2 separate regions of the Homo sapiens genome follow, and region 2 is linked to region 1. Evidence: fine-mapped expression QTL. Tissue or cell type: cerebellum. Region 1 holds a variant in brackets; the other region holds the start of a gene. All regions are shown on one strand. Distances are between the middles of the regions. Region 1 overlaps ARHGAP39 (Rho GTPase activating protein 39). Region 2 holds the start of GPT (glutamic--pyruvic transaminase).

What was found. PIP is the estimated chance that this variant, and not a neighbour inherited with it, causes the effect.
Region 2: it holds the start of GPT, and the variant in region 1 is the best candidate, but not a certain one, in a credible set for the expression of GPT in cerebellum (GTEx, PIP 0.59).

What each region holds. Positions count from the first base shown.
Region 1 is chr8:144,665,195-144,668,093 of GRCh38, forward strand. The region is part of intron 1 of ARHGAP39 (Rho GTPase activating protein 39); the gene reads right to left. Among named protein-coding and RNA genes, the nearest start is that of ARHGAP39, 19 kb to the right of the region's middle. The variant G/A (reference allele first, on the strand shown) is at 1,443.
Region 2 is chr8:144,502,706-144,505,604 of GRCh38, forward strand. GPT (glutamic--pyruvic transaminase) reads left to right here and starts at 1,435. Exons shown (of 11, transcript NM_005309.3): 1 at 1,435-1,761; 2 at 1,899-1,988; 3 at 2,066-2,174; 4 at 2,293-2,426; 5 at 2,541-2,784. The coding sequence starts at 1,600. LOC101928953 (a long non-coding RNA gene) reads right to left here and starts at 2,769. Exons shown (of 5, transcript XR_007061149.1): 1 at 2,667-2,769. RefSeq lists a silencer at 161-455 and an enhancer at 1,083-1,743.

The DNA.
Region 1 (2,899 bases):
TGAGAGAGACGACTTAGGGTATCTGGCAGAAGAAATCTCTAAGCAGCAAAGTGTTCAAAAGGTGACTTGGGTGCTGTTAAAAGCATTCCACTTTAAAAGGGAAACAGAGCATAGAAGTTCAGAAAATTTGCAGCCTGATGATGCAGTAGAAAAGAAAAACCCATTTTCTGAGGAGAAATTCAAGCCAGCAGCACAAATTTGCATAAGTAGCAAGGAGCTGAATGTCAATCCCCAAGACCACGGGGAAAATGTCGCCAGGCCATGTCAGAGACCTTCATGGCAGCCCCTGCCACCATAGGTGCAGAGGCCCAGGAGGAAAAAGTAGTTTTGTGGGCCAGGCCCAGGGTCCCTGTGCTATGTGCAGCCTAGGGACTTGGTGCCCTCTGTCCCAGCCTCTCCAATCGTGGCTGAAAGAGACCAACATAAAGCTCAGGCTGCGGCTTCAGAGGGTGGAAGCTCCAGGCCTTGGCAGCTCCCATGTGGTGTTGAGCCTACAGGTGCACAGAAGTCAAGAATTGAGGTTTGGGAACCTCCACCTAGATTTCAGAAGATGTATGGAAACGCCTGGATGCCCAGGCAGAAGTTTGCTGCAGGGATGGAGCCCTCATGGAAAACCTCTGCTAGGGCAGTGCAGAAGGGAAATGTGGGGTTGGAGTCCCTACTGGGGCATGGCCTAGTGGATCTGTGAGAAGAGGGCCACCATCCTCCTGACCCCAGAATGGTAGATCCACCAACAGCTTGCACCGTGTGCCTGGAAAAGCTGCAGACACTAAACGTCAGCCTGTGAAAGCAGCCAGGAGGGAGGCTATACCCTGCAAAGCCACAGAGGTGGAGCTGTCCAACCATGGGAACCCACCTTTTGAATCAGCATGACCTGGATGTGAAACCTGGGGTCAAAGGAGATCACTTTGAGCTTTAAAATTTGACTGCCCTGCTGGATTTTGAACTTGCAAGGGGCCTGTAACCCCTTTCTTTTGGCCAATTTCTCCCATTTGGAACTGCTGTATTTACCTAAAACCTGTACCCCCATTGTATCTTGGAATTAACTCGCTTGCTTTTGATTTTACAGGCTCACAGGCAGAAAAGACTTCCCTTGTCTCAAATGAGACTTTGGACTGTGGACTTCTGGGTTAATGCTGAAATGAGCTAAGACTTTGGGGGGCTGTTGGGAAGGCATGATTGGTTTTGAAATGTGAGGACATGAGTTTTGGAGGGGCCAGGGGTGGAATGATATGGTTTGGCTGTGTCCCCACCTAAATCTCAATGTGAATTGTATCTCCCAGAATTCCCATGTGTTGTAGGAGGGACCCAGGGGGAGGTACTCGAATCATGGGATCTGGTCTTTCCTGTGCTATTCTCGTGATAGTGAATAAGTCTCACGAGATCTAATGGGTTTATGGGGGGCTTCTGCCTTTGCTTCTTTCTCATTTTCTCTTGCTGCC[G/A]CCATGTAAGATGTGACCTTCACCTCCCGCTATGATTCTGAGGGCTCCCCAGCCATGTGGAACGGTAAGTCCAATTAAACTTCTTTTTCTCCCCAGTCTTGGGTATGTCTTTATCAGCAGCTTGAAAATGGACTAATACACATGGCTAAAGGCGATCAGTGCTGGACAACACCCGGAGTGCTCCAGTTCTCACAGCAAAGCCCCAATACAGTGTTCAAAGCGACCCAAACAGGCCTCTGCCCACCTCCCGTGAAAAAGAGGAAGATAAAATGCCTGCTGTGGGAAATGTCCAAGCCCCTCCTCCTTGGTCCTGTCCCTTTGAACCTTTGTAAACTTTGCTCAAAAAATGGTAGAACCTTTGCACGCAAGGCCAAGTTTCTGCTACAGATTAATTTTTCCATAAAACCATTTCGAACCAATCAATTTTAATGTTTTGTTTATTCTAAATATAAGAGTTCAGACTCACATTCTATTAAAATTTATCCCCAAAGTGAAAAAGAAAGAGACAAGGCAGATGCAGCACCCTGATGCTCCAAGCCCACCCGCACCCCCATTGCCTGTCCCCAGGCAGCCTGGATGCCCTCCTGCTCCCACCTCACAGGCTGCCCTCCAGCACTGCAGGCTCACTCTGACCCTCCCTCCAGCCTCTGCACTGGGCATTCCCTCTGCCTGCACTCCTTCCCCCACAAGTGGTTTACTTCCTTCACCTGCCCAAATGAAGTGTCTTTGTGACTGAGGCCCACCTGACCCCACCCCCTTCCCAATCTCCAGGCCCTCCCTCATCCTGTCTCTGCAGCACTGACACCTACCAACTACTGCAGATGTCACATGTCACGTGTCTGCTTTTCCCTGCCCTGGGAGAACATAAGCTCCAAGAGAGCAGGGGCTTGGCCTGTCCTCCTCCCTGGGATGTCCCGGCACCTGGGACATCTTCTGTGTACACTAAGTCTCAATAAACAAACTGTTTACACCCTAAGGTCACGGAGATGACAGGACAGGAGAAGAAGTGTGACTGTGGTAAGAGGGAAAGTTCAGGAGTCATGGCACCTGGACTTGAATCCTGGCTCCGCCTACTAGTTGTGTGACCCTGGTGGGTCACAGCCCTCTCCAACCTTGGTTTCCTCATCTATGAAACAGGACCAAGAGCACCCACTGCATGCATTGTTCTGAGGTATAAATTATATAAAAACACAGAATGTGTTCAGAGCATAAGCATCAGATTACAGTAACAATGCCAACAGCAATGAAAATGGGCAACATTTATCTTCAAAACATTTTTCCTAGACTTTATGGAGAGTGACGGCTTCTTCTGACAAAGCAATGTTCAAACCATTGGGCGAGCTGAAAATGCCAGTATGTGCTTCATGGAATTGTGTTCACAGCCTTTTTTTTTTTTAACCTCCATTCAGGACTCAAAAAAGCTAGTGAATTCTTGGTCCCCTAAAAACTGGCACACT
Region 2 (2,899 bases), 160 kb before region 1:
CTCAAGCAGGAGGGCTGAGGGCACCGCTGGTTCGTCTGTTCATGGTGGGCGGCTTTGTGTGGCCACCAGTGCTGGGTGGTGTGGGTTTGGGCTGTTCTCCCTCCTGGCTCAGCACGGGCCCGTCAGCCCAGTGTCCTTTGGGCCTGCCCTTCCCCTAGCATCCCTGGTTGGAAGGGTGTCCTCACAGGGCTGTGGGCGGGCCAGGGCTGGCTGCTGGTTAAATTTAGTGTGGGGGGTGGGGCAGCTGCCCAAGGTCCACCTGCCACCAGGGCTGCCACTTGGACTCCCTTGCCAGGGGGCGGGCAGGGGCTGGCTCTGCCTGGGGCCAGGCCCATGTTAACCTGTGCCCCGGCCTGGGGGCCAGAGGGGCAGGCCTGCGCACGGGGAGGCTGTTGTGGCAGCGGAACAGAGACGTGCACGGTGAGAGGCCTGGGGGCCGGCTGTCCAGGGCTCCCGATGGCTTTTCTCCCAGCCAGCAGGATCAGAGGAGCCAAGGTCCGACTTGGGCCTGGCTGGTTGCCCACAGCCCTGCTCAGAGGGCCGGCTCCCTGACCCCCATGGTTCAGGTTTCGGTGCCCGACGCTGGGGTGGGCCAGCGTGGAGCCTGGCCTTTCAGCTCAGCAGGCCTGTGGAGGTGGGGCTCTGACGGCCTATCCCAGCTCGTTTCCTACTCTCTCCTCCAATCGGGAACAAGAGGGCTGGAGAGCTCAGGTCACCCCTAGCCTCGGGTGTGTCCCAAGGGCAACCCCCAGCTGGTGCCTGGTGAAAGGGCATGACAGCAGCCACGGTGTGAGCTGTCCCAGGGCTCAGGGCTGGACTGCCTGGCTCCAGCCCCCTCCCCCAGCCCCTCGCAGTGCTCATCAGGGACCAAGGTCCAGCTACAGAGCTCTTGCAGCCTCTGGGCCATAGCTGCCAGCTCTGGAGGGTCCAGATGGAACCCAGAGCCTGAACACCCCTCCCCTCCCCCCAGCACCCCCTGGATTCCTGAGGCCTGGCTCAGTTAATAGGAGACAGGTCCGCTGGCCCAAGCAAAGATGCGGGTGCCACGAGGGCCAGGCCTCGGCCAAGCCCTGCTGGGGTAAATCCCAGCAGCCCAGGCTCCAGTCTCGCCTCGGGGGTCCCTCCTTGCCAGCTCTGCCAGCCCCTCAGGGCTGCTGGGCACCCCTTCACCTCCTGAGCACCCCAGGTGCTCAGCCCTCTCCCCCTCCCCCCATGTCTAGTCCCTCAGAGCTGTCCGGACTGACGTCTGTACCTACCCCCCATGTGGGTCTCCTGCTCTCCCTTCGTGGGGACACTAGGCAGGCACTGGGCCTTGCCCCAAGCCCCGCCTGCCACCTCACCCACTGCCTCTGCCTCCCTGGGGCAGAGCTGTTCCCAGACGGGTGGGGCGGGGCCCAACTGTCCCCAGCTCCTTCAGCCCTTTCTGTCCCTCCCAGTGAGGCCAGCTGCGGTGAAGAGGGTGCTCTCTTGCCTGGAGTTCCCTCTGCTACGGCTGCCCCCTCCCAGCCCTGGCCCACTAAGCCAGACCCAGCTGTCGCCATTCCCACTTCTGGTCCTGCCACCTCCTGAGCTGCCTTCCCGCCTGGTCTGGGTAGAGTCATGGCCTCGAGCACAGGTGACCGGAGCCAGGCGGTGAGGCATGGACTGAGGGCGAAGGTGCTGACGCTGGACGGCATGAACCCGCGTGTGCGGAGAGTGGAGTACGCAGTGCGTGGCCCCATAGTGCAGCGAGCCTTGGAGCTGGAGCAGGAGCTGCGCCAGGTATGGCCCAGGGCCCCTCGCTGCCCTCCAGGTCACAATGGGGTGGCCGAGTTGGCCCCAGCCCCACTGGCACATGGGACAAGGGCTGAGGGGTTAGGTAGGGCACAGTCTCCCTGCCTGCTCCCCTCCCCTCCCAGGGTGTGAAGAAGCCTTTCACCGAGGTCATCCGTGCCAACATCGGGGACGCACAGGCTATGGGGCAGAGGCCCATCACCTTCCTGCGCCAGGTGAGGCTCCTGCACTGCCCGGAGCACCCCCCCACCCCCAGCCCATGTGCCCTGGCCTCAGCACTCCGTCTTCCCAGGTCTTGGCCCTCTGTGTTAACCCTGATCTTCTGAGCAGCCCCAACTTCCCTGACGATGCCAAGAAAAGGGCGGAGCGCATCTTGCAGGCGTGTGGGGGCCACAGTCTGGGTGAGAGCCAGGGCCAGGAGGAAGCAGAGGGCCGCCCTGCCACTGGAGGAGGGAAGTCCCTTGGGAGGGCTGAGGAGAACTTCACCTGTACTTCCCATCCTGTCCTGCCCGAGTCCAGGGGCCTACAGCGTCAGCTCCGGCATCCAGCTGATCCGGGAGGACGTGGCGCGGTACATTGAGAGGCGTGACGGAGGCATCCCTGCGGACCCCAACAACGTCTTCCTGTCCACAGGGGCCAGCGATGCCATCGTGGTAGGCTGGGCATGGGCACCAAGACATTCCTGACACTGCAGAGGGGGCGCCCAGGGTGGGGGACAGGTGCGGCCCCAGGCCTCGCCAACCCTGCCTTCCCCTTCCTTTCCGCAGACGGTGCTGAAGCTGCTGGTGGCCGGCGAGGGCCACACACGCACGGGTGTGCTCATCCCCATCCCCCAGTACCCACTCTACTCGGCCACGCTGGCAGAGCTGGGCGCAGTGCAGGTGGATTACTACCTGGACGAGGAGCGTGCCTGGGCGCTGGACGTGGCCGAGCTTCACCGTGCACTGGGCCAGGCGCGTGACCACTGCCGCCCTCGTGCGCTCTGTGTCATCAACCCTGGCAACCCCACCGGTGCGTTCCCCGCCGCCCCGCCCCACTCCCCCCGCGCCCACGTTGCGTTCCCCGCCGCCCCGCCCCACTCCCCCCGCGCCCACGGTGCGTTCCCCGCCGCCCCGCCCCACTCCCC